Linked DNA regions of Homo sapiens: regions 1, 2 and 4 are each linked to region 3. Evidence: fine-mapped expression QTL. A gene starts in region 3. Each other region holds a variant in brackets. All regions are shown on one strand. Distances are between the middles of the regions.

What was found. PIP is the estimated chance that this variant, and not a neighbour inherited with it, causes the effect.
Region 1: its variant is the best candidate, but not a certain one, in a credible set for the expression of EAF2 in cerebellum (GTEx, PIP 0.53).
Region 2: its variant is the best candidate, but not a certain one, in a credible set for the expression of EAF2 in fibroblasts (GTEx, PIP 0.58).
Region 4: its variant is the best candidate, but not a certain one, in a credible set for the expression of EAF2 in whole blood (INTERVAL, PIP 0.54).

Annotation. Positions count from the first base shown.
Region 1 is chr3:121,974,182-121,982,293 of GRCh38, forward strand. No RefSeq gene overlaps it. Among named protein-coding and RNA genes, the nearest start is that of ILDR1, 44 kb to the right of the region's middle. The variant G/A (reference allele first, on the strand shown) is at 3,565.
Region 2 is chr3:121,724,661-121,732,772 of GRCh38, forward strand. GOLGB1 (golgin B1) reads right to left here. Exons shown (of 22, transcript NM_001366282.2): 2 at 6,216-6,313; 3 at 5,205-5,357; 4 at 4,528-4,680; 5 at 2,253-2,381. The coding sequence starts at 6,311. Among named protein-coding and RNA genes, the nearest start is that of GOLGB1, 21 kb to the right of the region's middle. RefSeq lists an enhancer at 6,301-7,500. The variant T/C (reference allele first, on the strand shown) is at 3,581.
Region 3 is chr3:121,830,492-121,838,603 of GRCh38, forward strand. It overlaps EAF2 (ELL associated factor 2), which reads left to right and starts at 4,718. Exons shown (of 6, transcript NM_018456.6): 1 at 4,718-4,900. The coding sequence starts at 4,795. IQCB1 (IQ motif containing B1) reads right to left here and starts at 4,569. Exons shown (of 15, transcript NM_001023570.4): 1 at 4,475-4,569; 2 at 3,900-3,988.
Region 4 is chr3:121,854,988-121,863,099 of GRCh38, forward strand. EAF2 (ELL associated factor 2) reads left to right here. Exons shown (of 6, transcript NM_018456.6): 4 at 2,024-2,169. Among named protein-coding and RNA genes, the nearest start is that of EAF2, 24 kb to the left of the region's middle. The variant G/A (reference allele first, on the strand shown) is at 4,913.

The sequences.
Region 1 (8,112 bases), 140 kb after region 3:
TTGTTTTTTGTTTTTTGGTGGTAGACTGAAAATTATATTTACTTTGGCCTATGTTGAGTTGAGACTTCAAAAATCCCTCGTAGAGAAAGAAAGATTTAGGGAGATAAGAATTGTCAACCTTAAATAACTAGATTCAGAAAATATGATTAAGTAGAGAGTTTATTTGGGCCTAAAGCTTGTGGATGGCCACCAGGGAGCATAGATTCAAGTTGCCCTGAATATACACTCTGATTCACAGCAGTTACAAGTAGGTTTTTAAGGAAAAAAGAAGAGGCAGTTCCTGAGTTCTTTACAAACAATTTACCTTAAAACAATGCAAGCTATTAATTGGCTGTACACTGTTCTTTGTATCACAAATTCCAGGAACCTGAAGATAATGAGTGAGGCAGCTATCAGGAACAAAATGTCTTTAAGTAATTGCCTTTGGACATGGGTAAGGGGTATGACTAAAGTCCCATACCAGTGTTTCTCTGGGCCTGCTAAATCTTGCCATTGCCCTGAGCTATTTTTCTTTTATCAGAATGTTAAAGTGAATTTGTTTTGTGTTACTCACTCAGCCATTCCATCCCTGAAGACATACCTGTCATAATGTAATCACCCAATGGGTTCTTCTTGCCCACTGAACAGATAAAAATCAACCCACTGAGACCTCAACATTGCAGGACAGAAAGAGTTTAATTGATGTGAGTCTGGCTGACTCAGGAGAACAAATTTATCACTCAAATCAGTCTCCCCAAAGACTTGGAGGTTAGGGATTTTATGGACAATTTGGTGGGCGGGGGCTAGGGAATGGGTGCTGCTGATTGGTTGAGGATGAAATCATAGGGGTGTGGAAAACAATCTTCACATGCTGAGTCCACCTCTGTTTGGGGCAATAGGATTCGCTGAGTCATAAGTCATGAGTCCAGGTGGTATCAGTCTGAAAAGCATCTTAAAAAAACAATCTTAGGTTGTACAATAGTGATATTACTTATAGGAACAGTTAGAAAAGTCACAAGTCTTGTGACTTCTGGCTACATGACCCCTGAGCAGTAAGGAATTACAGAAACTATGCCTATCTTTTCAGAATTCAGGCCCCTTTCACAATCCCAACCTTCTGGACTTTCATTACTTTTATAAAGGCAGTTTAGTTTTGGAAAGGACTATTATAATCTTTGTTTTGGGTAAAACTATAAATCATTTCCAAAGTTAGCTTGGCCTATGCCCAGCAATGACCAAGGACAGCTTGGAGATCAGAAGCAAGATGGAGTCAACTATGTCAAATTTCTCTTACTGTCATGATTTTGCAAAGGCAGTTTCAATAAGAGCATAGAGAAAAGCATAAATGAAGGTAGTACCAACATATTTGAAAAGCACCATTGTGGCTGATTTCTGTATGCCAGAGATGAAGTTGGAAAATACCAATATTGAAATAGTCTCTATGATTTCAATAAGAATGATGACATCTCAGGGTGGCAGAGACTAATGAATTACACCAATATACCAGAAACAATTTGGCCTGCTTATTTTAATAGGAGAAAGGCTGGTAGGGTAATTATAATGATTTGACCCACAGGAATCTTTGTCATTGAATAATTGATCATAGAGCCCTGCATGCGGAAATTGGAAGGGAGTCATGTTTACCTGGGTAAAGAATGTTTTCTCTGCAATAAAAGTCATTTGGTGAGTATTTACATAGGACACAAATATTCTCACACTCTGAGTTTACTTTAAGAGATCCCTTCACATACCTCTTTCTTCAGGCCAACTTGTTATACATCCTTATATCTTACTCCTTGTGTATCTCTGACCTGCCAATCATTAGCCCCAATCCCTGCATTACTGTAGATCTGTTTCTTGGGTCATCTCTCTTTTAGGCAAAATGGGCAGTGAGATAGCCTGCTTAAAATTCTGCCCATTGGAAGGAATTCCACCCCTTGGTGGGGCTGCTGCACTGCAGAAGTTTATCTCCAGTTTTCATGGAGAACCATTTATAAACTAGCTTCACATGTTTTTCTTTTTCAATCAACTGATCATAGAGAACACTCCATGTAGCTCAGGTATAGATGAGAGTAAGATGGCAGTGTGATGGCAGTAGGCACACCAGGAATGATAGCCACCTGTTCATCCAATTTACTCTTGACTTTAGGACCTGCTTAAGGTCAATATACCACATGCTGGAGGAGTGTTGCTGCCATGCCGGACTCTATGGTGATAGATAAGACACCAAATTCATGTGGGGAACTGACTTGACTGTCCTCCTGTCCTACAGTCAAGTAGGTGTTTGGTCTCTACTATGACCCAATAGCAAGCCAAATGCTATCTCTCAAAATGAGGGCAATTAATTTTCAAATCAGGCACGATTTTGCTCCAAAATGCTATGGGCCTCTCCTCTAATTCTCTTATCAGGGTTTCCACAGAATCCCCCAGCATCTTGATTAGCCATACATATTTTGAAAACCACTGGAATCACTGGTCATAAGTAGGGTGACCATATAATATAATTGATCACTCCAACTAGAACAATTTTGAGAGTGAAAGGAGGCACTAGTAATAAACATGTTGGGAAAATGTACGGTCATCCAGTCATAAAAGCCAAGTGATTTATTTGTTCACTCTGCATCCTTTACCAGCTAGAGTACATATTCAAAGATGAATATAGAAAATTTTGATAAAGAGCTCTCAATTATATCCTGGATTAGGTTATTGAATTTCAAGGCAAAACTTCTTCAAGCACTCAGGCAGAAAAGGTAAATATTTAATTAGTTATCACACTTTAGTGTGCATGAGAAGTACCTGGATGTATTGTTAAAACAGGCTACTCAACTTTATACTCAGAATTTCTAATTCTGTAGCCATAAAATGGGCCTGAGAATTTGCATTTTAACAAATTCTTAGGTGATATTGATGTTGCTAATCCAGGGGTCATATTTTTAAGAACCATTGATCTACAGAAGAAGAAGAAGAAAAAAAAACATAAGACTGTCCTCAGTTTTTTTCCACAGCAACATGTCATACTTTTAAGAACCATTGATCTACAGAAGAGAAGAAGAAAAAAATAGACTGTCCTCAGTTTTTTCCACAGCAACATGTAATACCAAATGATAATATTCTAAATAGAAACTTATACTGAGATGTAGTTGAAGTTTTAGGTCCACCAACAGCTTTTATAAACATGAACAGACTCTAGGAACATTGCCTTCTAGAGAACCTTTTGCAAAAGCCATAAGATGATAGTCACACTTTTTTTTTTCTGATAATAGGATCTAGGGGTTACAGTATATTTATGACCTGGCTGTCTAAAGAAAGGTTGTGATATGGTTTGGCTTTGTCCCTGCCCAGATCTCCCATCTTGAATTCCCACCTGTTGTGGCAGGGACCCAATTGGAGGTGATCGAATCATGGGGGCAGGTCTTTCCTGTGCTGTTCTCATGATAGTGAATGAGTCTCATGAGATCTGATGGTTTTAAAAAGGGGCGTTCCCCTGCACAGCTCTCTCTTTGCCTGCTGCCATTTACATAAGATGTGACCTGCTCCTCCTTGCTTTCTGCCATGATTGTGAGGCTGCCCCAGCCATGTGGAACC[G/A]TAAGTCCAATTAAACCTCTTTCTTTTGTAAATTGCCCAGTCTTGGGTATGTATTTATCGGCAGCATGAAAACGGACTAATACAGTAAATTGGTACCAGTAGAGTTGCTGAAAAGATATCCAAAAGTGTGGAAGTAACTTTTGAACTGGGTAACAGGCAGAGGTTGGAACAGTTTGGAGAGCTCAGAAGAAGACAGGAAAATGTGGGAAAATTTGGAGCTTCCTAGAGACTTGTTGAATGGCTTTAAGAAAAATACCTATAATGATATGAACAATAAGGTCCAGGCTGAGGTGGTCTAGATAGAGATAAGGAATTTGTTGGGAACTGGAGCAAAGGTGACTCTTGTTATGTTTTAGCACAGAGACTGGCGGCATTTTGCCACTGCCCTAAAGATTTGTGGAACTTTCAACTTGAGAGAGATGATTTAGGGTATCTGGAAGAAGAAATTTCTAAGCAGCAAAGAATTCAAGAGGTGACTTGGGTGCTGTTAAAGGCATTCAGTTTTATAAGGGAAGCAGAGCATAAAAGTTTGGAAAATTCGCAGCCTGACTATGCAATAGAAAATTTTTAAAAAACCAATTTCTGGGGAGAAATTCAAGCCGGTTGCAGAAATTTGCATAAGTAGCAAGGAGCCTAATGTTAATCCCCAAGACTATGGGGAAAATCTCTCCTGGCCATGTCAGAGACCTTCATGGCAGCCCCTCCCATCACAGACATGGAGGCCCAGGAGGAAAAAGTGGTTTTGTGGGCCGGGGCCCAGGGTCCCCATGCTGTGTGCAGTCTAAGGACTTGGTGGCCTGTGTCCCAGCTGCTCCAGCTGTGGTTGAAAGGGGCCAACTTAGAGCTCAGGCCATGGCTTCAGAGGGTGCAAGCCCAAGCCTTGACAGCTTCCATGTGGTATTGGGCATGTGGGTGCACAGAAGTCAAGAATTGAGGTTTGGGAACCTCTGCCTAGGTTTCAGAAGATGTATGGAAATGTCTGGATGCCCAGGCAAAAGTTTGCTGCAGGGGCAAGGCCCTCATGCAGAACCTCTGCTAGGGCAGTGCAAAAGGGAAATGTGGGGTTGGAGCCCCCACAAAGAGTCCCTACTGAGGCACTGCCTAGTGGAGCTGTGAGAAGAGGGCCACTGTCCTCTAGACCCCAGAATGGTAGATCCACTGACAGCTTGCACCATGCACCTGGAAAAGCCACAGGCACTCAATGCCAGCCCATGAAATCAGCTAGGAGGGGGGCTGTATCCTGCAAAGCCACAGGGGTGGAGCTGCCCAAGACCATGGGAACCCATCTCTTGCATCAGTGTGACCTGGATGCAAGACGTGGAGTTAAAGGAGATCATTTTAGAACTTTAAGATTTGACTGCTCGGCTGGATTTCAGACTTGCATGGGGCCTGTACTCCTTTGTTTTAGCCAATTTCTCCCATTTGGAATGGCTGTATTTACCTAATGCCTGTATCTCCATTGTATCTAGGAAGTAACTAACTTGCTTTTGATTTTACAGGCTCATAGGTGAAGGGACCTGCCTTGTCTAGATGGGACTTTAAACTTGGACTTCTGGGTTAATGCTGAAATGAGCTGAGATTTTGGGGGACTGATGGGAAGGCATGACTGATTTTGAAATGTGAGGACATGAGATTTCAGAAGGGCCAGGGGCAGAATGATACAGTTTGGCTGTGGCCCCGCCCAAATCTCTGTCTTGAATTCCCACATGTTTTGAGAAGGACCAGGTGGGAGGTGATTGAATCATGGGGGCAGGTCTTTCCTGTGCTGTTCTCATGATAGTGAATGAGTTGCACGAAATGTGATGGTTTTAAAATGGGTGTTCCCCTGCACTGCTCTCTTTGCCTGCTGCCATCCACATAAGATGTGACCTGCTCCTCCTTGCTTTCTGCCATGATTGTGAGGCTTCCCCAGCCATGTGGAACTGTAAGTCCAATTAAACCTCTTTCTTTTGTAAATTGCCCAGTCTCAGGTATATCTTTATCAGCAGCATGAAAACAGACTTATACAGATTATATTTACTAACCTCAGGTTCAGATGAGGTTTCCAGTAATATAAAACTTGACAATGCTCTATCTTTACCTACTACTATATTTCTCTGCCTACTTTCCTTTCATTCAAGCTAAAGAAATTAAGGCTCTGGTGCTGTTAAACTGTCTGACTCATCTGAAATGTAAGCCTTTATATTTGTCAAAAATTGTGAAATATGTTTGAGATGATTAAAATAAATCTGAAGGCTTGGCTAGTTCATGTATGTATGTATCTGAACTTCAAGTGAACTCTATGAACACTGTCCTCTATAAAAACTCCCACAAAAAAGTGCAGCTTTTTTTTCTGCAGAATCCTAAAAGATCAGAATAGCTTTGATTTTTAAGATGACCATCAGAATTCTTTGTTCCCCTTCTGTGGAAGTTGGAAAATAACTTTGAATAAAAATTATCTTTTTTGGGTTTTCTAAAATAAACATAACTAGTTTTGTTTACTGTAACAACAAAACTAAGTTGAGAGATGCAGAGGTGTAATATTAGAGGAAGTGTGAGAGTGCCAGTATTTTCATTTTCAATACCAGGAAGTCCATTTGAAACCTGAGGGTTTAAAGTACAATGATTCTAACTTCATCATGTTTTCCTTTGTCTTCTTTCATAATCTAGGAGGGTTCCTTAAGAAATAAAATCTCTTGAAATGAAAGATTTAAAGTTTAACAATTCCTCTAGTTTCCCTTCAATTTACTTTTCTTCTGTTAAAATCCAGCAAAACAGGTTTTATTTTTTATTTTTCTTAGACAAGGTCTCAATCTGTTGCCCAGGCTGGAGTGCAGTGACACGGTCATAGCTCACTGCAGCCTTGACCTCCTAGGCTCAAGCGATCCTCCCACCTCAGCCTCCCAAGTAGCTGGGAGTACAAGCACATGCCACCGTGATTGGCTAATTTTTAAAAATTTTTATTGTTAGTAGATACGAGGTCTTGCTATGTTGCTGAGGCTAGTCTGTAATTCCTGAGCTCAAGTAATCCCCCGACCTCTGGCCCCCAAAGTGCTGGGATTACAGGTGTGAGCCACTACAGCCAGCAAAAGTTTTTTGGTTTTTTTTTGACTAAAATTAGTAGCATTCATATGAACACATTTTAAAAGGTTATCTATTGCTCTCATTCTGTATAAGCAGAGAAAAAAATACTTGGAATGATGTTCATTTACTATGCTTAAAATTTTCATTGAGGTGTAATATACAAATCAGAAAATTCACTTCTTATGATTGTACAAGTTAACAATTTTTAGTAAATTTACAAGGTTGTTTGATCATAATAACAACCAATTTTAGAACATTTCTATCACTCTGAAAATAACCCTCATGTTCACTTACCATCTCTATTCCCACTCCAGTGCTGGGCAACCACTAATTTACTTTCTGTCTCTGTAGATTTGCCTTTTCTGGACATTTCGTACAAATAGAATCACCTCATATGTGGTTTTTGTATCTGGCTTCTTTTCTTTAGTATAATGTTTTTGAACTCATCCGTGTTGCAGCAAGTCAGTAATTTATTCCCTTTTATTACGGAAGTCCATGGATATGCCTACCACATCATGGAGTGAATTGTGTCCCTGTCCCCCAAATTCATATGTTGAAGCACTAACCCCTCAGTACCTCAGAATGTAACTATATTTGGAAATAAGTCTTTTAAGGAGGGCATTAAGTTAAAATGAGGATATTTAGGGTATGTCCTACTCCAATCTGACTGGTGTCCTAGAAAGAAAAGATCAGGACATATGAGAGAGAAAGTGAGAAGGCTACCATCTGCAAGCCAAGGAAAAGAGGCCTCAGGAGAAACCAAATCTGCAGGCACCTTAATCTTGGACTTCCAGTCTCCAGAACTGTGAGAAGTAAATTTCTGTTAAGCCACCCAGTCTGTGATATTTTGTTATGGCAACCCTAGCCGACTAACTCACCATTCTGGTGGCTATGAAGTGGTATCTCACTGTGGTTTTAATTTGCATTTCCCTAAGATGTATATCATCTTTTCATGTGCTTGTTGGAAATTTTTATATCTTCTTTGATGAAGTCTCTATTTAAACGTTGCCCATTTAAAACAAGTTGGGTTTGTCTTATTATTGAGTTGTAAGCCCTCCTGATATATTCTGGTTAGAAGTACTTTATCAGAAATATGATTTGCAAATATGTTCTCTAAGGTTGTAGTTTGTATTTTGTTTTCTTAATGGTGTTCTTTTGAAATAAAAAAGTTTTACATTTTGATGAAATTCAATTTATACATTTTTTCTTTTAAGGATTATGCTATTGGTGTCATATCTAAGGACTCTGCCTTACCTAAGGACAAAAAAGATTTTTCTATACTTTTTGGGGTTTAGCTCTTACATTTAGGTCTATTGTCCATTTGAAGTTAATTTTTGTATAAGGTGTAAGAGTCTAAATCCATCTTTTTGCATATGACTAAACAAGTGGTCCATCACCATTTATAGAAAATACTATCCTTCCCTCATTGAATTGCCTTAGCAGCTTTGTCAAAAATCAATTTATCCACAGGTATAGGAGTTTATT
Region 2 (8,112 bases), 110 kb before region 3:
TAAAGAAATTAACACGGCTAAAAGGGAGCCAGTTTCTAACAGTTAAGACAATGGGAAAAAGCCCTAAAGGCATTTCAGAATGCATTTTAGAAATCTTTAAGGCTGCCCCAACAGCCCCCATCACAGGCCCAAAGCCCTAAGAGGACAGAATGGTTTCTGTGAATAGGCCCTGAGATACCACTGCTCTGTGCCACTTCAGGATACTGCTCCTTGCAGCCCAGCTGTTCTGGTTAGTGCAAAGCAGCCGCAGGTATGGCTCATGTCACAGCTCAAAAGGTACGAGTTGTAAAACTTGGTAACATCCACATGGTGCTAATTCTGCAGGCTCACAGAAAGCAAGAGCTGTGGAGGCTTGGTAGTCTCCACTTACATGTCGAAGGATGTCATCAATAGCCAGGGGGCTCAGGCAGAGGCTTGTCTTGAGGCAGAACCACCACAGAGAGCCCCACTAGAGCAATGCCAAGGGGAAATGAGGGGTTGGAATTGCCCTGCAGAGTCCCCACTAGAGTAATGCCTAGTGGAATCACGGTGTGGGACTACCACTGCCATACCAGAACTATAGAGCTACCAGTGTGCAATGCAAAGTCAGCCTGGGAATGCTGGCTGGACTAAGCCCAGCAAAGCCATAGGGACAGAACTGCCTGAGGTCTTGGGGACCCAACCCCTGTACCGGCAGAGGATGCTGAAAATGGAGTAAAAGAAGATTATTCTGGAATTTTAAGGCCCAATGTCTACTCTCTTGGTTTTCAAACTTGCTTGGGGTCTGTTACTCTCTTTCTTCTTGCCTAGTTCTCCCTTTTAGAATGAGAATGTGAACCCTATGCTTGTCCTACCATTGTATCTTGGAGGAAGATAATGTGTTTTTATTTCACAGGCTCACAGAAATTGGTGCAGGAATGAGCTAAGACTTTGGGGCTGTGGGGATGCAATTAATGTATTTGTATGTGAGAAGAATATGAGTTTTGGAGAGCCAAGGGTGGAAGGCTATGATGTGAATGTCCCCTCCAAAACTCACGTTGAAACTGAATCCCCAGTGTGACAAGAGGCCTTTAAGAAAGGACTGGTTCAGGAGGTCTCTGAACTCAGCAATGGATTAACACATTCACAGATTAATGGATTAATGGGTTGTCATAGAAGGGGAACTGGTAGCTTTATAAGAAGAAGAGAGACCTGAGCTGGCAAATTAGCACACTCAGCCCCCTCACTATGTGATGACTTGCGCTGCCTTGCGACACCACTGAGAGCCCTATCAGCAAGAAGACCCTCACCAGATGCAGTCCCTCAACTTTAGACTTCTCAGCCTCCATAAATGTAAGAAATAAATTTATTTAAATTAAATTAAATTTCTGTTATTATAAATTAAAAACAAAACTAAGGAGCAGAATGATATGATTATAGGTGATAAAAGCATACCAGAGCCACACTAAAAAAAAAAAAATCAAAATTGCAATCTATTTCAAAAAGTTTTTAAAAATTAAGAAAATTATACAGGCCAGGCATGGTGGCTCACACCTGTAATACCAGCACTTTGGGAGGCCCAGGCAGGTGGATCACTTGAGGTCAGGAGTTCCAGACCAGCCTAGCTAACATGGTGAAACCCCATTTCTACTAAAAATACAAAAAATTAGCCAGGCATGGTGGTGCATGCCTGTAATCCCAGCTACTCAGGAGGCTGAGGCAGGAGAATTGCTTGAACCTGGCAAGCAGAGGTTACAGAGAGCTGAGACTGTACTGCTCCACTCCAGCCTGGCCAACAGAGTGACACCCTGTCTCAAAAAAAAAAAAAAAAAAAAAGAAAAGAAAAGAAAAAAAAATTATACAGAGATGAGAGAAAAACATAAATCAGATTTAGAAAAATCAGAAATGAGGTGACTGAACTCATGAAAAATCCAATAGAAAAGAAAAAATCATTGCAGTATAGAAGATAAAAAAACAGAAAAAACACAAAAACAAACAAAAAATAGAAGGCCTAAAGTGAAATAAAACAACAAACAAAAAAACAAACTTAAAATATGTGAAACCATATATTGAAAGAGTATACTGGGTATCTATGAATAACAACTAAAAATGACAAACACCAATGCATATTCTAATAAAATTACCAGACAAGAAGAAATGAAGAAAAGAAGGAGACTGATATATACATAGATAAATGCCCATTGTGCATCTAGAAAAATGTATTTGTCACATAATAATCCATTGGTTTTAGTGATTCATTAACCTAATGATTATGAAGTAACTTCCACCCCTACCTGTGCAGGTTGTTCTGCCTGTGCCTGAGTAAGCTGGGCTTGCAAAGTGCTGATTAGTTCCTCCTTCTCCTGGAGCTTATGTTTTATCTTTTCTATTTCCATCTCTTCCTCTGTAGAACTCTTGTCATGCTGAAAATGCAGGAGATAAAGTCATTATTTAAAAGAATTACAATTAATATATATTTGATATTTTCTTCTAATTTTTCATTTACAACCATTTAGTTATAATTTTATTAAACTGATGGGAGCAAGAAAAACCAGCTGATCTAACAAATAAGAAATCTTAGGGTTGTCCAGTTTTTGTATGGCCAAGCAGTTCCTGTTAGACCTACCCTCCCTCACATAATAGCTATAAACTGTGAAATACATACACACACACACATATATATATATATATATATATATATATTTTTTTTTTTTTTTTTTTTTTTTTTTTCCCTCACACCAAGCATGTGAACCCAAAACTGTGGACAATATAGAAAACAGCTATCTGAAAATACTGGAGAGCAACCAAAAGCAGGAAGATACTGGAGGGGATGTGATAATTGGAAGAAATGGTACCGAGTTTCCCATTTTGACAGCTTTTATTCTGAGGGCAAAACCAGTCAGTGCCATGCAGGACTAAACCTTAATAGAAAACCCGAAGTCTTGTTGCCTTGAAGAATCAAGGAGAGAGCTCAGGAAACTATAGCTGTTGCTAAGTGAGAAGCAACACATCAGAAAAGAGCCAGTGAGGGGAAATCCAATTTTTTCAATAATCTATTTTTTTTTCCAAAAGCTCTCCCTTAGACTGAGATTCTGCCTCTTTGTAAATTTAGTCCCTCCCAACCCCCTAAACAAAGCTATTTCTGCTTACTGGAATTACAAAGAATACTTTTATACTTTCACATAAGTCAGTCAAGCACCTGAGGACTGTTGTCATTTCTTCAACTATACTTTCCACAGAATACCTAGCTCTGTATTGAGTATATAATAGTTAAAGGGTTGCTATGACTGATTGCTGAAACTTAGAAATCATTTCTTTAACAGAGAAAGAAAATGAACTCTAAGACATTACTGCTTTAAGGTCTCAGAGCTAAAAATGAAATTAAAAAGCAGAGTATAAAATGGATAATTTAAAAATCTGACATCATAGCTGAGGAGAAGCTGGAGGGAACAAAGCAATATGAGGAGAGAGGTTGGTGCTACCACAGTGAGGGGAAGAGAACTGACAGAGGAAAAACCAAAAGGAAAAGAAGGATCAAGGTGAAATTATTTGAGAAGATTGAGAAAAGCTTTTAAAATAGGCTTCAAGAAGTTAAATAAGATTATCAATTCAGGGAAAGTAA[T/C]GTTCTCTGATCATTAGGCCCTGAGAGGAAAGACTAAGCAGGAACTGGGTCACTAACTAGCGATCCCAAAGGTTGTGCCTAGAAAACTGATTAAAATCTCATTTCCCAAGAACTAAGGATACTAGCAGGTCAAAGCAAAACAAAATGAAACTAAAAAAATAAAAAGATTTCTTACACACGGTGAAGTCTAGGCTCACTCTATAACTACAGTATGCATGTGATATGCCTGCCTCCATATAATCTGTATCAAACTCTCCACAAAACTGAAGTTTCTTGTTCTCTAAATAGCTGACTGAATGTGAATATGTGGAGTTTAACCATACAGGAAAGATAATGAAAATTTGAGTACTGGGACAATATTCCTCACAGGGCAGTACTTTCCTTATTCCTCCTCTGTATCTCCAACCTTAAACTGCTTTGTTGGCTGCAGTCATAAACCTAGTGAGCCTCCCTTTTAGAGAGTCCCAGGTAATTCAGCTGATTCAGCCCACATGCATGAAGCTTTAATCCACCACTATGTGACTATATATGAGGACACAGAATATTCTGTGTTAAGTCATTGAATTAAAAAGTTTCAGAGCTGGAAGAAACCTTAGAGATAATCTAGTTTAATCTTCTAATCAATGATGAAACTCCTCCAAAAGGTATGTTTCCCTCCTCTCTAAATGCCTCACTTCAGTACTTATTTCTTCCTGTAAGCCTTTTTTAATCCCTGAAAGTCCAGGTCACAACTGGCATTTCATATCCATGTTTTCTGTACATCTTTCATTCTCCCTGTGTGTGGCCTACAGTCCAGCTGAACTACAAGCTCTATAAGAAAAAAAAAAACAAAACATTATTTAGTGCTGTATCATTTTAGCATCCTAAATGTTTGTGATTGGTGAAGATCTGCTGTATTGGTAGGTTTTTTCAACTTAGGAAATATACACTACACCCAGTCACCATACCTTGGAAAGTTGCTCCTCTGACTGAGGTTCTGTAGGCAGAACAGTCCCTCCTTGTGCTTTCATTTCTTCTATGTATTTATTCAAAGAAGTTAATTTGGCCTTCGCATGAAGTTTTAGTTTTTTAATTTTGTTATCAGCAGCTTTTCTCTCTTCCTGCCCAAAAACAATGATGGTAAATACATAAATGTTTATTCCCCTCTTATCTAGCACATACTAAAAGTTATTTTTATTATTATTACTTTCAGAGACAGGGTATCTCTCTGTTACCAGGGCTGGAGTGCAGTGGCACAATCACAACTCACTGCAGCCTCTAACTCCCAGGCTCAAGCGATCCTATCTCAGCCTCCAGAGTAGCTGGGACTACAGGTGCCCAATACCATGCCCAGCTAATTTTTTTTAAATTTTTTTTTGTGGAGACAGGGTCTCACTATGTTGCCCAGGCTGATCTCGAACTCCTGGCCTCAAGAAATCCTCCCATCTCAGCCTCCCAAAATGCTGGGATTACAGGTGTGAGCTACCACACCGACCCAAAAGTTATTTTCAGTAGGCATAAGGTTACAGTACTAGGGAGATAATCAGATTCCCTAATAATCTAAGTGGAGACAAAAATTAAAGTGAGTAGTGTATCATCTGTCCTTTATCAAATGCTCCACAAGAAAGGATAAAAACAATAGTACCTGTAGAGCTTCATCTTTCTGCTGCAGTTGAACATCCTTCTGTCTAATAATATCTTTTAGCTCCACCACCAATTGCTCTGCATAAGCCAGGCGCTCCTGAACATCTTCTTGTGTAGTATTATTAAATTCCATGTCAGATTCTTGGTGTAATTCCTAATATTTAGGAAAAAAGTTGCCAGTGCACCAGGAAAAGGTATTAGCTTCCCAACAGGAGTTTCTTCATTCCAACTTTTTATGTTTTGCCCAATTCATATTCTTGTTAACTTAAGAATCTAACTCTGATCCAATAATAATCATTATCATAGCCATTACAATATATTAAGTATTTTATAAATGTTAAGCATTTTACAAACATTATCCCATTTAAGGTATTATTATCCTAATTTTACCAAAGAGAAAAATAAAGGAAAGCAAAAATCATAAACCAGTAAGGGTAAAAGGCCAAAAGTTAAAATTAAGAGTAGTTAAGTAAAACTCTCTTAACCACTACGCATTACTTCTTGTCTTTTCAGAAAACTAAGAAGTTTTATTAATTCCTTATGTGGACTTCAGAAAATATAATACATACTGCCAATTTGTATCATCTTAAAAAAAAAAGAAAATACAATACAAACTATAGGAGAAGTGGTAAATGAAATTACAAAGCAAACAGATATTCTGAAACCCAAAAGGTGTTCCAGTTTCCTCATTTGTCACTTAGACCTTTCCTGTGGAAAAGGAATAGCCAAGGATGAGAACAAAGGACTTAAAACACTCTGGCACCAAACAAGGCCCAGGGAGACAAATGAGAAAGCCCTTTCAAATTGTATCCAGGACTTGTTTCCCATCACTGTGGCTTTTAAGCTAAAAACTTACAAGAGAAGGATCACTTATAAAATTTCAATATTTTTCTTAATCCTCGCTTCACCTAGTACCAGGGAGGCTTCGCACACCCTTCTATCTTAAATTATTTTCCTTAGAAGAACACAGAACATATGTCTTACCAGTTTAAATCAGAACAGAACTACTCACAGGGTCTAGGGGAGCCCTCATATTCTGATCAGTGTCATCATCTCCTGATAATTCATGCAAAACAACATTTGCTAATCCTGATAATCGGCTCAGCATTTCTGTAGGAAAAGAAGGGGGGAAAAAACCTAAGAATCAGCAAAATGAACATAGGCTTCTCCTATATTGATAACCATATCATCCGTGAATGAAAAAAGAATACTGTACAGGTGATTTGTATTAGACACAGTCTGCAGCACAATGATGTCTTCAAAAAGGCATTTGAGTACTTCCAGTGTAGTCACACGCTGTTCTTTTCAGTGGCAATTGTACAGAGGTTATCACCATCACTAACACCATTTCTAAAATAAAATGTAAGTACCTAATCGTTAAACATTAATACAATGTTAAATACCAATCTATAATTGTTAAATACACCTTAAAGGTAGTTTTTATCTTTAATGCCCTTCTTTCATAGTAGTTTCACTTACAAACATGAATTTCTTTTTTCTTTTTCTTTTTTTTTTTTTGAGACAGGGTCTTGCTCTGTCACGCAGGCTGGAGTACAGGGACGCAATCTCAGCCCACTGCAACCTCTGCTTTCTGGGCTCAAGCGATCCTGCCACCTCAGCCTTTCGAGTAGCTGAGACTACAGGCACATGCCCAAACATGAATGTCTTATTCTTTCTTCCTCTGTCAGACTGTTATTCTCTCCCACTTGTTCAAATAAACTCCATGATACTGCAACATTTTTCTTTTTATGTGCCCCATGAACCCCATTCTTTCAGAAAGCTTTCTTGATAAACCATGTGGCTTTGCTAAAATTTAAATATAAACTTTGTTCAAAATGTACAGCATTAAATGCATATATTAGAAAAGGAGGAAGGACAGAAATCAGTAACCTATGATTCTTCTATAGAAAATTAGAAAAAGAAGAACAAATTACAGCCAGTGTAAGCAGAAAAATAAAAATAAAAATCAGAGTAGAAATTAATAAAAATAGAAAAATAGAGAATATCAATAAAACCAAAAGTTGATTATCTGAAAAGATCAATAAAATTGATAAAACTCTAGTCAAGATGACCAAGAAAAAAACAGAGAAGACACAAATTACTGGCATCATAAATGAAAGAGGAAACATCATTAATGATCTAACATACATTAAAAGATAATAAACACTACAAATAGCCCTATACTTTTAAGTTCATCCATGTAGATAAAATGGGTCAGTTCACTGAAAGATTCAAGCTACCAAAAGCTCAAGAAGAAATAGAGAACCTGAATATAAATGAGTAGATATGTGTGGGTGCATGTGTGTGTACAGACACACACACACATATATATACACACATATAAATATGAAATTGAATTCATACATTAAAAACCTTCTAAAAAAAGAAAACTCCAGATCAAGGTGGCTTCATTAGTAGGTAACAAGAAACATTTAAGGAATAATACCAATTTTATATAATCTATGCCAGAAGATAGAAAAGGAAGGAACACCTTCTAACTTATTTTACCAGACTAGCATTGCCCTAATACTAAAAGCAGACAAAGATATTACAAGAAAACTAAAGACCAATGTTCCTCATGGTCACAGTCAACAAAATATTCAAATAGTCCATAAAATATTAGCTAATTAAATCCAGTAATATATAAAAAGATAATACATCACAACCAAGTGGGGTTCAAGAAATGTAATGCTAATTCAAAATATGAAAATCAATGTAATTCACCATATTAACAGACTAAATAAGGAAAACCACATAATGTCAATAGATTGAGAAAAAGCATTTGACACATTTCAATATCTATTCATGATTATGAATTCACAATAAGAATAATTCATTCTCAGCAAACTAAGAAGTGAATTTCCTCAACCTAATAAAGGGCATCTTTAAAAAACTTACAGCCAACATCA
Region 3 (8,112 bases):
CAACTGTTTAATATAAGCTAAGCACTATGTTAATATACTATACACTGTCTTGTGTAATCCTCACAACAGGGCTATGAAGTAGATAGAGCGTGTGATCATTTCCATACATACATATATACATATACATATATATGTTTTTGTCCACAGTTTCTGGCTCATAACTCCCATAGCCTTTGTTACAGTCTTGTTATGTTAGGGTGCTTTAGGCCTCAGAAAACAGAATCTATTTCTGACTTCCTCCTCTCCTCCTTTCACCTGCTCCTTCTCTCCAAAGCAGAACTCTAATCATCCCTGCCTTTCTCTGACCTATCTTGTCTAGCTGTAGGTCATAAGACCCCTGTTTCAGAATGGGTCTTGCCCTATATCCTGGAAGGAATGCTGAACAGAGAAGCCAAGAAGAATCTGAGCAGACAGGCCTTGCTGGGTTTCCCCACTCAGTCTGTTAGTATCAGATCATATCTTTTTTGTCCAATCACATTTCCAAAATGATTGTCCATGCTTCAGTCATGCCTATCCATTGAAATCTCCATAAAAGGCTCAAGAGGATGGGGTACAAAGAGCTACTGGATAGCTGAACATGTGGAAGTTCCTGGAGGAATTTCCTGGATATCACAGGCAGGGAGGACATGGAAGCTCTGTGCCCCTTCCCATACTTCACAGTATGCATCTCTTCATTTGTATCCTAGTATTTTTTTTTGGAGACAGGATCTCACTCCTGTTGCCCAGGCTGGAGGACAATGGTACAATTATGGCTCACTGCAGCCTAGACTTCTCAGGTTCAGGTGATTCTCCCACCTCAGCCTCCCAAGTAGCTGGGACTACACTTGCAAGCCATGACGCTCGGCTAATTTTTTGTATTTTTAGTAGAGACAGGGTTTCTCCATGTTGCCCAGGGTCTCTGTAATATCTTTATAATAAACTGGAAAACATGTTTCCCTCAGTTTTGTTAGCTCCTCTAGCAAATTAATACACCCCAAGGTGTGTATTAATAGGATTCCTCATGTGTAGCTGGTCAGTCAGAAGCACAGGTAAAACAACTTAGGGCTTGGATTGGCATCAGAAATGGGGGTCCCTCTTGCAGGACTAAGCCCTAAACCTAAGGGATCTGACCCTATCTCCAAGTAGACAGTGTCAGAATTGAATTAGATGATACCCAGCTGGTGTCCGCTGCAGAATTGATTGCTTGCTTGTTGGTGGAAGAAAACTCCACACATTTGGTCACAGAAGTCTTTTGTGTTGATTGTCATGATGTGAGAGCAAAAACTGTTTTTCCATTCATATATCTCTTATTAGGTACAATATAAATCATTAAAAGACAGGTTTGCTGAAAATACCTTAAAGAAAGCCCAGTGCAACTCCCGGCACATAGTAGTCACAAAACTTTCAAAGAGAGTGCATATAGTTATCTCATTCTCTCCAAATGGCTGCATTATGCTACATTTCCTTTTAAGAATGCAGCAAAATATATTTAAACATCACCTCTACTGGAGGTCACTCAAGCTGTATGCTATTACAAGCAACACTGCAATGAATATACACATGATCCTTTACATTTTTGCCAATCTGTTAGATGAAAATTGGTATGATTGTGTTTTAATTTGTATTTCTTTGATTATTAGGGATGTCAGGCACATTTCGTGTTCACTGGCCATTATTTCTTTTATGTATTTTCTATTCATATCCCTTGACTATATTTCTATCGGTTTGTCTTATTCTTTTGCAGAAGCTTTTCATACATGGATAGGAATCTTTTCTCTTTTATATTGGCTGTAAAATTTTCTCCTTGTCATTTATTTTTTTAAATTTGACTATGGGGTCTTTACCATAATTTTACAATTTTTTTTTTTTTTTTTGAGAGAGAGTCTGACTCTGTTTACCCTGGCTGCAGTGCAGTGGTGCAATCTCAGCTCACTGCATCCTCCACCTCCTGGGTTCAAGTGATTTCATGCCTCAGCCTCCCAAGTAGCTGGGATTACAGGCGTGTGCCAACGTGCCCAGCTAATTTTTGTATTTTTAGTAGAGATGGGGTTTCACCATGTTGGCCAGGCTGGTCTTGAACTCATGACCTCAAGTGGTCTGCCCACTTCGGCCTCCCAAAGTGCTGGGATTACAGGCATGAGCCACAGCGCCCAGCCATTTTTACAATTTTTACATATGAAATATAACAATCTTTTCCTCTATGGCATCTGTCTTTTGTGTCCTGTTTAGAAAGGTCCTCTCTAACCCAAGAGATAAAAAACATTCTCCAAATCTTCATGTTTTTTTGGTTTTGTTTTCCTTACATATCTTCTAAAGTAAGGTATTTTTGTGAATGGTGTCATATAAGAATCTAATTTTTAATGTTAAAGTTATTGATGGATTAAAAAATGCACACAGTAGTCATAAATTCATAAGGTAACTAGTTATGAATAGACATAACAGAAACAATCTGAAACGTCACATTTTCATGCACTATGTATACATACACATACACAGGGTATCTTTTTGGACTCTACTTAGTTTCTAGTAATTTAATCTGTTTGTCTATTCTTGAGCTAGTACAACATAGTTCATTTTAATATATGTTTGGAGAAAATTCACCTCAGAAGGTAAGCTTCATGAGGGCAACCTACCTATCCCTTAGAGATGATTAAATGAGTTAATACATGAAAGCAATTGGAACAATTCCTGGCACATAGTAAGAGCTCTCCAAATGGTTATTATTAAAGCCCAGTTCTACCATCATACTACATTTTAAGACCATCTTTGCTGGCTGCCTTCTTATATCTTTGGTTCACAACTGTATTCCCAGTGGCTAGACTAGTACCTGGCACGTACTAGGATTTGCTAAATACAGGTTGAAAGTATGAGTAAATGCACAAACCTCAGGCATTCTGAGCCTCAATTTCTTGACTTTCTGTTTTTCTCTTGTTACAATAGAGAAAGCTCAGATTTATAGTTGGAAGCCTCTCTAACGTAAAATAGGCTCAAAACAGTTTGTGCCCTCCTGGCTACCGTAATAAAACATCACTAAATCATTATTGTCATCAACAAATATGTGCAGAGCAGTATGGTAGATGCAGGGGATGCAAAGATTCTACACAAGACATACTCTCTGCTATTGTTCTGGTTGGGAAAGAAAAGTATGTTTATGTACATGTGTACACACACACAGATACAAAAAAATATACTTAAGAATATCAGATATATGTTAAATGCTAAATAGATGACACAGATAAGAATACAGGCCATAAAGTCAGAGGACTGGGCTTCTCTGAACCATTTTTCTTGCTGTAAACAAAATAGCAATTCCTACCTCCTAGAATGATTCTATTTAGAAGAGAAGGCAGCCACCAAGATGGTCTTAAAATGTAGTATAAGTGTAGAGCTGGGCCTTAAATAACCATTTGGAGACCTCTTATCATGCTCCAGGAATTGTTCTAATTGCTTTCATGTATTAACTCATTTAATCATTCCAACAACTCTAAGGAACAGATACTATTATTTTTTTCCCAATTTGAACAATGAGCATACTTAAACTCTGGAGAATGTAATTAGCTGGCACAAAGTCACACTGTTAAGTATAAAGCAGGGGTTCAAACTAGAGCCACCATCTGCCTTAAAGCATTTAACTACGATATGAAACAGCTTCGGCACACCTTCAAAGGGTAGGATTTACACAGACAGGTTGAAGGAGACATAACCACCTACCCCAAAATCAATTGACAAATGTGCCTAAGGCAGAAGGTGAGGGAGTGCAGTTGGATTGCGTAATTACCCTGAAAAACCACCTGTTATGGAAACCATCTGTAAACTTTCTCGAGTGTTTCTCCTATAATTCAACACTTCTCCCATCTTTACATTAAATTCATGAAATTTGACACAAAAAGACAATTATTTATCTATTTTAAGGCTACTACCCTGTTGCCAGGCCACCGGGTCCGGCCCAGCCTTGATTCTTCGGGAATCACTTCTCCCTCGCCGCGCCTGTTACTGCCTCCACGGATCACTGTGAGGAAAATAAATGAAAAGGAAATTCAGTGCGATCCTGTTGCGGCTGATCCTAAATGTCTGCAGTTGCTATCTCCGAATCCTCTTTCTCCTCCCCACTACACATCCCCTTCTCCAGTCCTAGGACCACAAGAAACTTCCTCTGGTACAAAAAGGTCAGAAAACGATTACTGAGGTAACAGCGTCGCTTCAAGTCTAAGGACCGAGATTCTGGGGCCTCTGGGCTCCTTTACTCCAGATTCTAGACCCGGCTTTCGCGCTACCAGGCCTTGGATAAGACACTAGGCCCTGTGCCTGGACACTGCACCTCCCCAGGCCTCAGTTTCCACACCAGATCTCTACAGAGTGGGCGTGAGGGCAGGCCGATTCTCCCGTTAAGAGCTCTTACAAGCCGGCTGACTTCGTCCAGGAGCCTGGGGTCCTGGCCTCCTGGTAGGCGCCCTGGGGCCCTCTCCCTCCCCAGCCACCACCTCAGATAAGTTACCTCATCCTCGCTTCGCGTTCTTCCACTAAAGAACCTGGGGCTCCCACGCCGCACTACAGCGCCGCGGCCTTCCGGGGCAGCGTGCGTCGCGACGCGGGAAGGGGCCTGGAGGCGGGACTAGGAGCCTCGGAGTCAAGGGGCGGAGCGCCCTTTGCTAATAAGCCAATCAGAACGTGAGACGCTCCGGTGGGGCGGTGCGCGTCGAGCGCGGGGTGGAGTCTGGGTGACTTGGCTGGCGGGATCAAGTGCAGCTGCTTCAGGCTGAGGTGGCAGATAGTGAGCGCTGGTGGCGGAGTTAAAGTCAAAGCAGGAGAGTAATTATGAATAGCGCAGCGGGATTCTCACACCTAGACCGTCGCGAGCGGGTTCTCAAGTTAGGGGAGAGTTTCGAGAAGCAGCCGCGCTGCGCCTTCCACACTGTGCGCTGTGAGTGAGGACCATCCGGGGATAGAGGGGGAGCCTCCCGGGATGGGGGTGAAGAGGCACAAACCCCTCTGGGTTTTGTTCCCACAGTACCCCTTACACTGTTGGAGACTACGGGGCGGGGAGGGGGGAGGCAGCGCGATCCTCTAACCTGCTCGGAGTCTTAGGGGGTCGGTGGAAGGAATCGGAGTAGAGCAAATGTGGGTAAACCCTGGACAGAGAGCGTTGAGACCAGCAGACAGGAAGGGAAAGTGTGAAAAAAGTCTGTAGAGGTGACTGTGGAGACAGACGTGACAGGTGGATGATGCAGGGGTGGACAGGAAAATAATAAGGTGACAAATGGGAAGGGACTAAGGACCGAATGCCGGGGAACTTGAATGCCTTGAGGCTGGTGGGGCAATATTCTCTCTTTTCATCACTTTTTCTCACCTCTGGCAGATGAGGGTTCTTATTTGGTGTGTTCTTTGCAAAGGGAGAAATTCTCAACCATCCCAATGATCTGTATATCTCTTTGGACCCCAGATTTCACTCAGTTATCAAATACTGATTATCAAAGTATTCGAGGGTGTGTTATTAATTTCTTTATTTGGAAGATGCTTACCTCCCTATGATTTCTACCCTTTGGTTTTCTTTATGTCCTCTGGAACTAGTTTTAATAAATTATTCTCTTTTATGTTGTTGGAGTAGAAAAAGGAGCTCTTTTGCTTTAGCAGTTGGATGATATAGATTCCAGGAAGGAAAATATAGCATATAAGTTTTTATGTGTAAGACATTCGTTTTTTGCATAACAACTGTCATAGAATTGTAGAGCGGGAAGGAAACTTCAAGATCACTGAATTATAACTTCTCATTTTTCTGTGGTAAAACTGTAAGTATTTTTTCACTTCCTTTCCCCAGCCTTGCCCTTCCTTAATATCTCATCATTCCGCCTTTCTCAGTCATTCTGTTCTCGGGTTGTTTAGAGACCTTTATGGTTTTTACTCTGAAATGTTCCATGGTTCAATCAAAACAACTAATTAAAGCATACATTCTCCCAAAAGTTTATTTAAGTTGTAGACAATTTAGTTATAGTTACTCAAAGTAAAGGTATGAAGAACCACTGGTTTTAACCCTGCAAGAATATATTTACTAAAAGGGTTTTTTTAAAGCAAAATTAACATCCAATTGGTAGAATAAATGGGTGAGATATTTGTGAACAGAAACTCTTCAACAGTGTCCCTTGTTTATTCTTCTTTATCATATACTTTCTCATCCAGAGCTCCCCACGATGAGATGGTGCTGTGCTGGCTCTGCAGTTTCTCTCTCTTCAGTCCCATTTTCCGGAAGTGTGATATGCGTCTTTATCTGGTTTTTCCATGCCTTTTTCTCAAATAGTATCTACTCTCTCCTTTTCTCTTCCTTCTCAGGTATGCAATAGTCTTAATATTAATTTTTCAAGTTACAAGGGCTTAAGATTATAAAAATTTGCTTAAGAATATATTTCTATATGATTTGGGTATATATTCTCTTATGTAGGGCACAAATCCCAATTTAAATGAATAAAAAATTGCCTTTGAAAATAATCTTGCAGGTCCTTCACAGCCTTTCATTTATAAAGGTTCTGAAAATGCCAGTATCTTGAAAGTCAGAGGATCAGATGATCCAGCTACCAGAATGAAAATAAACAAAAATAAGCAAAACAACAATAATGACAATAATAAATAAACAAACATACATGTTTGAATACACACTTAGTCCTGTGGAAGACAGAACTATTAGAAAAGTTTTCAGTCCTTATTTTCTTTTATTGTTGTTGTTGAAGCAGGTGTGGTAATGGCACAGAATCATTTTAGATTTATTTAAATAAAACTGTTTATTATTCTTGAGGACAGGTTCATTTCCAATGTAATCCTCACTCTTAAGAACTCAGAGTGAGGTTTGAAAATTGTAGAATAGTATGAAGCTGATGTTCATGCAGATAAGGGGGACCTAATTTATAACCAACCCTCAAGCCAATGTCATTGGAGAGAAAGTAATATTCTGCCTTTATTTACAGGAGCAATTCTGCCTGTCTGATATAAGACTTCAGGCAAACCCGGATGTGAATCCTGGTCTCCACCACCTATATATATAATGTGACTTTGGGAACATTCTCTAAGCTCTCAACCTCAGTTTTCTTATGGCTAAAAGATAATAGTAATATTTACATTTCATGGTTTGTGTAAGGATTAAATAAGATAGCATAAACAACCTGGAACAATATTTGCCACAGGGTAGAGAATAAATAGTAGTCACCATTAATGTTGAAGAGTTATATTCATATGTGTACGAGGGGTGCTAATGAATGTAATTTAGTCAGACTTTGAAACAGCATTTATCAGAGTTTAGCAATAAAAACTATCAAAAAGATAGTCTGGCATGTGGTAGGAAGGGCATGGGATGTTCTATCAACGATAAGCTGAATGCTTAGCAACAGGTGCTTTACCGGGTAGAAGAGTTTCAATAACAGGACCTACTAGAATCAATTTTGAATTGGGAGTAGTACTAGTTTTACTATTTATATCCAGATAAGGCAATGAATTGTGAAATCCTAAGTTTGTAAATGACACCACTTTTTTGTGTCCTTAAATGATGAGCTAATGAGCAGTGTGGGTTTTGGAGTTGGTTGAATTCATTCAAATCCCGGAAAATAAACTGATGATAATAATTGTGGATTCTTATGAAAATATTGGCATTATGTGATGTTACAGTTAAAATAATCAGAAAAGCGATAAACATTGGCAGAAAAGGTATTAAATACAAAGTAGAAAATGGTTTTCTACTCTTCATGCAATATAATAAGTAATTCCATTGTAAACCTGAAAAAATTGCATAGATGAAAGAAATCCAGAGAGAATAAATAAATGGTAAAGTTGGTGGTAGGGTTTCCAAACCAAGGAGAACTGAGAAATGAACTATTTAGTCTGGAATCATAGCAACTTGGAAGAGAATATGTTTGACATTTAGAAGCATACAGAAAGTATGAATATGAGATTAATCAGCAAATTCTTTAATTCTGGAACTCAACCACTTGAAACTCGGAAGTTATATACTTTTAAAAAAGTGTGTGAGGACAAAAGACAACACTGCTTGATATAATGGGTAATAAAGAGTAGAGTTTATTAATCCTAACAGTAGAATAATTAGAAATGTAAATAGATTCAGAATAGTTTTGGCAGATTTATTGATTATGAATT
Region 4 (8,112 bases), 24 kb after region 3:
AGCGTTTTACCACATTACCCTGTGATATATAAAAGCTTGTTTTGCTTCTAAATGCTTTCTATAGGTATAGGTACACTTTTTATCCTATTGTAGATACTTCTGTATAACTGGATTGAAGGAAGCCATTATACATTCTCTAAAATAATTTCATCTTCATTAGTAAAAATTTATTGAGTACCTAGGATGTGTAAGGTACTAGAAAAAGGAAAGTTTGCTCTGCAAACACCTCAAAACTTCTGCATTTTATTCAGATAAACAGACTATTCCATTTAAAAAGTCAATAGGAGAATATACCCATCTCAAATCCTTTTTGGAAATAGGTAACACATTACTTACCCTGTAATATAAGGATGTTTGCTCTAAAAGCCATGCAAATAGTATAGACAAAAATTGCTCTAGGAATTAAGAAAAAGGAGAAGTAATGGTAGATTGGAAAATTCAGGGAGGCCTTTTTGATGTACCTTAAGAGGAGGTTAGGATCATAAGAATTACCTTGGGTGCTTGTTAAAAATTAGTTCCCGAATCCAACCTTAAATCAGGGAAGGATCCTGGGAAACTCTATTTTTTAATATCCCCTCACCCCTACCATCCATGCCCTGCTGTGATTCACACCAGAAGAAAGTTTGTGCAATACCGATTTAATTGATTAGAGAGGAGATGAGAATGTAAGACAAGTTTGATATCTGATTTATTCAGGGCCAATGAGTAAGACCTACTTGAACGGAGCAGAGGTTTGTCTCTGTACCTGTGTATACGTTTTGGAAAGTAGGGGGCGATGTTGATATTGGGCTAGAGGTAAGGTTGTAATTTTGTTGGTTGAGGTTAGTGCCATCAATATTAACTAAGAAATTAGGACATTATCTTGCTGGTAGTCGTTACATATTAAAGTCTTTTTAACCAGGGATTGGCATGTTTACAGTTTTGTTTTAAAACATTAATTCAGTAGAGAAACTGAGTAAATGAAACAATGTAGGAATCAGAAAAATGTATAAACCAGGATTTTTGAGGGCAGGAATGAAGAGAAAGTGAGGTTCTAAAGACTTTTTGAAGGAAGAACTGACAGGATTTGGTGACTGGAAATGGGAGAGGCAAAAATCAAGCATACTTTTATTATACTACACTCTTCTTAAAGATATTGAAAGAAAAGTATATGAATCTCCTTTATTATCATGCCTGTCTTAAGTTATGAATGGAAACTTTAGAAGTGATTTAGTTTTAACAGAAATGATAATCTTAGAACTTACGGAATATATCGTACCTGTTATACACTTATATTTTTCCTTTTATTTTAGTCATTTGTGAATATCTTATCTGTTCAATTTAAGCAATGGCTTTTTTTTTTTTTTGGTTGTTGTTTTATTTATTTTTAAATAGAGATGGAGGGTCTCGTTATATTGCCCAGGCTGGTCTTGAACTCCTGGCCTCAAACCATCTTCCTTCCTCAGCCTCCGAAAGTGCTGGGATTATAGGCATGAGCCACTGCACCAGCCTGGATTTTTGTTTTTGTTTTATGAGACAGGGTCTCACTCTGTCACCCAGGCTGGAGTGCAGTGGCGCAATCATAGCTTACTGCAGCTTCTAACTCCTGGGCTCAAATGATCCTCCCACAGCCTCCTAAATAGCTGAGATTACAGGTGTGCATCATCATGCCCAGCTAATATTTTTATTATTTTTATACAGACAGGGTCTCGTTATGTTGACAAGGCTGGTCTTGAATTCCTGGCCTCAAGTAATCCTCCCACTTCAGCCTCCCAATATGCTGGGATTACAGGCATGAGGCGCCAAGCCTGGCACTGGTTTTGTTTTTGTTCTTGTTTGTATCCCTCAATGGACATGTGTATCACAGAAATAGAACTTGATAAATACTTGTTAAATAATGAACTAAATTAATGTTTTAATTATGGAATATTATTCTAAAGATGTTTAGGAAAAGAATAAGTGGTCAGTTTTAGTAACTTTGTAAGTTAAATTTTTGTTACATTGCTGTCATACCTGTTTCAATATTTGATATTCTTAATTGCAGAGTTGAAGGAAGCAGTAAAATTCAGTATCGTAAAGAACAACAGCAACAACAAATGTGGAATTCAGCCAGGACTCCCAATCTTGTAAAACATTCTCCATCTGAAGATAAGATGTCCCCAGCATCTCCAATAGATGATATCGAAAGAGGTAAAATCTAAGTATATGTAACATCCCTTTATAAGAGATAATTAAGAAATGTTAAGGCCAGGCATGGTGGCTCACACCTGTAATCCCAGCACTTTAGGAGGCCGAGGCAGGCGGATCATGAGGTCAGTAGTTCAACACCAGCCTGGCCAACATGGTGAAACCGCATCTCTGCTAAAAATACAAAAATTAGCTGGGCATGATGGCATGTGCCTGTGGTCCCACCTACTCGGGAGGCTGAGGTAGAAGAATCACTTGAACCCAGGAGGCAGAGGTTGCAGTGAGCTGAGATTGCGCCACTGCACTCCAGCCTGGGTGACGGTGAGACTCCATCTCAAAAAAAAAAAAAAGAAAAAAAAATGCTAAATGAATTTTTTCATTTTAATTAACAGTGGTACTAATTATAAATGTTTACCAAGAGCATAATATTTTTTGTAATTACGCATTTTTCTGGGTAATGATGTAGCTTATGATTTTTAGTTTTATGTAAGCAATATCCATATAAGAGAATTTGTATCATTTTATTTATTTTATTATACTTTAAGTTCTAGGGTACATGTACACAACGTGCAGGTTTGTTACATATGTATACATGTGGCATGTTGGTGTGCTGCACCCATTAACTCATCATTTACATTAGGTATATCTCCGAATGCTATCCCTCCCCTCTCCCCCAACCCCATGACAGGCCCCGGTGTGTGATGGACACCCTGTGTCCAAGTGTTCTCATTGTTCAATTCCCACCTATGAGTGAGAACATGTGGTGTTTGGTTTTCTGTCCTTGCAGTAGTTTGCTCAGAATGATGGTTTCCAGCTTCATCCATGTCCCTACAAAGGACGTGAACACATCCTTTTTTATGGCTGCATAGTATTCCATGGTGTATATGTGCCACATTTTCTTAATCCAGTCTATCATTGTTGGACATTTGGGTTGGTTCCAAGTCTTTGCTATTGTGAATAGTGCCACAATAAACATACGTGTGCATGTGTCTTTATAGCAGCATGATTTATAATCCTTCGGGTATATACCCAGTAATGGGATGGCTGGGTCAAATGGTATTTCTAGTTCTAGATCCTTGAGGAATCGCCACACAGTCTTCCGCAATGGTTGAACTAATTTACAGTCCCATCAACAGTGTAAAAGTGTTCCTATTTCTCCACATCTCTCTAGCACCTGTTGTTTCCTGCCTTTTTAATGATCGCCATTCTAACTGGTGTGAGATGGTATCTCATTGTGGTTTTGATTTGCATTTCTCTGATGACCAGTGATGATGAGCATTTTTTCATGTGTCTGTTGGCTGCATAAATGTCTTCTTTTGAGAAGTGTCTGTTCATATCCTTTGCCCACTTTTTGATGGAGTCGTTTGTTTTTTTCTTGTAAATTTGTGTAAGTTCTTCATAGATTCTGGATATTAGCCCTTTGTAAAATGGGTAAATTGCAAAAATTTTCTCCCATTCTGTAGGTTGCCTGTTCACTCTGATGGTAGTTTCTTTTGCTGTGCAGAAGCTCTTTAGTTCAATCATATCCCATTTGTCTATTTTGGCTTCTGTTGCCATTGCTTTTGATGTTTTAGTCATGAAGTCCTTGCCCATGCCTATGTCCTGAATGGTATTGCCTAGGTTTTCTTCTAGCGTTTTTATGGTTTTAGGTCTAACATTTAAGTCTTTAATCCATCTTGAATTAATTTTTATATAAGGTGTAAGGAAAGTATCCAGTTTCAGCTTTCTACATACGGCTAGCCAGTTTTCCCAGCACCATATATTAAACAGGGAATCCTTTCCCCGTTGCTTGTTTTTGTCAGGTTTGTCAAAGATCAGATGATTGTAGATGTGTGGTGTGATTTCTGAAGCCTCTGTTATGTTCCATTGGTCTATATATGTGTTTTGGTACCAGTACTATGGTGTTTTGATTACTGTAGCCTTGCAGTATAGTTTCAAGTCAGGTAGCGTGATGCCTCCGGCTTTGTTCTTTTGGCTTAGGATTGTCTTGGCAATGCGGGCTGTTTTTTGTGTCTGTATGACTTTAAAGTAGTTTTTTTCCAATTCTCTGAAGAAAGCCATTGATAGCTTGATGGAGATGGCATTGAATCTATAAATTACCTTGGACAGTATGGCCATTTTCACGATATTGACTCTTCCTATCCATGAGCATGGAATGTTCTTCCATTTGTTTGTGTCCTCTTTTATTTTTTTGAGCAGTGGTTTGTATTTCTGCTTGAAGAGGTCCTTCACATCCCTTGTAAGTTGGATTCCTAGGTATTTTATTCTCTTTGAAGCAATTGTGAATGGGAGTTCACTCATGATTTGGCTCTCTGTTTGTTTGTTATTGGTGTATAGGAATGCTTGTGATTTTTGCACATTGATTTTGTATCCTGAGACTTTGCTGAAGTTGCTTATCAGCTTAAGGAGATTTGGGGCTGAGACAATGGGGTTTTCTAAATATACAATCATGTCATCTGCAAACAGGGACAATTTGACTTCCTCTTTTCCCAATTGAATACCCTTTGTTTCTTTCTCCTGCCTGATTGCCCTGGCCAGAGCTCCCCAACACTATGTTGAATAGGAGTGGTGAAAGAGGGCATCCCTGTCTTGTGCCAGTTTTCAAAGGGAATGCTTCCAGTTTTTGCCCATTCAGTATGATATTGGCTGTGGGTTTGTCATAAATAGCTCTTATTATTTTGAGATACGTTCCATCAATACCTAGTTTATTGAGAGTTTTTAGCATGAAGGGCTGTTGATTTTTGTC[G/A]AAGGCCTTTTCTGCATCTATTGAGATAATTGTGTGGTTTTTGTCATTCGTTCTGTTTATGTGATGGATTATGTTTATTGATTGGCATATGTTGAACCAGCCTTGTATCCCAAGGATGAAGCCGACTTGATCATGGTGGATAAGCTTTTTGATGTGCTGCTGGATTCAATTTGCCAGTATTTTATTGAGGATTTTCACATCGGTGTTCACCAGGGATACTGGTCTAAAATTCTCTTTCTTTGTTGTCTCTGCCAGGCTTTCATATCAGGATGATGCTGGCCTCATCAAATGAGTTAGGCAGGATTCCCTCTTTTTCTATCGATTGGAATAGTTTCAGAAGGAATGATACCAGCCCCTCTTTCTACCTCTGGTAGAATTCAGCTGTGAATCCGTCTGGTCCTGGCCTTTTTTTGATTGGTAGGCTATTAATTATTGCCTCAATTTCAGAGCCTGTATTGGTCTATTCAGGGATTCAATTTCTTCCTTGTTTATTCTTGGGAGGGTGTATGTGTCCAGGAATTTATCCATTTCTTCTCGATTTTCTAGTTTATTTGCATAGAGGTGTTTATAGTATTCTCTGATGGTAGTTTGTATTTCTGTGGGATCAGTGGTGCTATCCCGTTTATCATTTGTTATTGTATCTATTTGATTCTTCTCTCTTTTTTTCTTTATTAGTCTTGCTAGTGGTCTATCAATTTTGTTGATCTTTTCAAAAAACCAGCTCCTAGATTCATTGATTTTTTTGAAGGGTTTTTTGTGTCTCTATCTCCTTCAGTTCTCCTCTGATCTTAGTTATTTCTTGCCTTCTGCTAGCTTTTGAATTTGTTTGCTCTTGCTTCTTTAGTTCTTTGACTGGTGATGTTACGGTGTCGATTTTAGATCTTTCCTGCTTTCTCTTGTGGGCATTTAGTGCTGTAAATTTCCCTCTACACACTGCTTTAAATGTGTCCCAGAGATTCTGGTATGTTGTGTCTTTGTTCTCATTGGTTTCAAAGGACATCTTTATTTCTGCCTTCATTTTGTTATTTACCCAGTAGTCATTCAGGAGCAGGTTGTTCAGTTTCCATGTAGTTGTGCGTTTTGAGTGAGTTTCTTAGTCCTGAGTTCTAATTTGATTGCACTGTGTTCTGAGAGACAGTTTGTTGTGATTTCTATTCTTTTATATTTGCTGAGGAGTGCTTTACTTCTAACTATGTGGTCAATTTTGGAATAAGTGTGATGTGGTTCTGAGAAGGATGTATATTCTGTTGATTTGGGGTGGAGAGTTCTGTAGATGTTTATTAGGTCCACTTGGTGCAGAGCTGAGTTCATGTCCTGTATATCCTTGTTAACCTTCTGTCTCATTGATCTGTCTAATATTGACAGTGGGGTGTTAAAGTCTCCCATTATTATTGTTTGGGAGTCTAAGTCTCTTTGTATGTCTCTAAGGACTTGCTTTATGAATCTGGGTACTCCTGTACTGGGTGCATATATATTTAGGATAGTTAGGTCTTCTTGCTGAATTGATCCCTTTCCATTATGTAATGGCCTTCCTTGTCTCTTTTGATCTTTGTTGGTTTAAAGTCTGTTTTGTCAGGGACTAGGATTGCAACCCCTGCTTTTTTTTTGTTTTCCATTTGCGTGGTAGATCTTCCTCCATCCCTTTATTTTGAGCCTATGTGTGTCTCTGCATGTGAGATGTGTCTCCTGAATACAGTGCACTGATGGGTCTTGACTCTTTATCCAATTTGCCAGTCTGTGTCTTTTAATTGGAGCATTTAGCTTATTTACATTTAAGGTTAATATTGTTATGTGTTAATTTGATCCTGTCATTATGATGTTAGCTGGTTATTTTGCTCGTTAGTTTATGTAGTTTCTTCCTAGCATCAATGGTCTTTACAATTTGGCATGTTTTTGTAGTGGCTGGTACCGGCTGTTCCTTTCCATGTTTAGTGCTTCCTTCAGGAGCTCTTGTAAGGCAGGCCTGGTGGTGACAAAATCTCTCAGCATTTGCTTGTCTGTAAAGGATTTTATTTCTCCTTCACTTATGAAGCTTAGTGTGGCTGGATATGAAATTCTGTGTTGCAAATTATTTTCTTTAAGAATGTTGAATATTGGCCCCCATGCTCTTCTGGCTTGTAGAGTTTCTGCCGAGAGATCTGCTGTTAGTCTGATGGGCTTCGCTTTGTGGGTAACCCGACCTTTCTCTCTGGCTTCCTTTAACATTTTTTCCTTCATTTCAACATTGGTGAATCTGACAATTATGTGTCTTGGAGTTGCTCTTCTCCAGGAGTATCTTTGTGGTATTCTCTGTATTTCCTGAATTTGAATGTTGGCCTGCCTTGCTAGGTTGGGGAAGTTCTCCTGGATAATATCCTGAAGAGTGTTTTCCAACTTGTTTCCATTCTCTCTGTCACTTTCAGATACACCAATCAAACGTAGATTTGGTCTTTTCACATTGTCCCGTATTCCTGGAGGCTTTGTTCATTTCTTTTTACTCTTTTTACTCTAAACTTCTCTTCTCACTTCATTTCATTCATTTGATCTTCAATCACTGAAACCCTTTCTTCCACTTGATCTAATTGGCTACTGAAGCTTGTGGAAGCATCACGTAGTTCTCGTGCCACGGTTTTCAGCTCCATCAGGTCATTTAAGGTCTTCTCTATGCTGTTTATTCTAGTTAGCCATTTGTTTAATCTTTTTTCAAGGTTTTTAGCTTCTTTGCGATGGGTTCGAACATCCTCCTTTAGCTTGGAGAAGTTTGTTATCACCAATTGTCTGAAGCCTTCTTCTCTCTATTCGTCAAAGTCGTTCTCTGTCCAGCTTTATTCCATTGCTGGCGAGGAGCTGCATTCCTTTGGAGGAGAAGAGGCACTCTGATTTTTGGAATTTTCAGCTTTTCTGCTCTGGTTTCTCCCCATCTTTTATCCCAAAAGGTAGATAAAGGTTTTATCTACCTTTGGTCTTTGATAATGGTGACGTACAGATGGGGTTTTGGTGTGGATGTCCTTTCTGTTTGTTAGTTTTCCTTCTAACAGTCAGGACCCTCAGCTGCAGTCTGTTGGAGTTTGCTGGAGGTGCACTCCAGACCCTGTTTTCCTGGGTATCACCAGCGGAGGCTGCAGAGTAGCAAATATTGCAGAAGGGCAAATGTTGCTGCCTGGTCCTTCCTCTGGAAGCTTCGTCTCAGAGGGGCACTTGGCTGTATGAGGTGTCAGTCA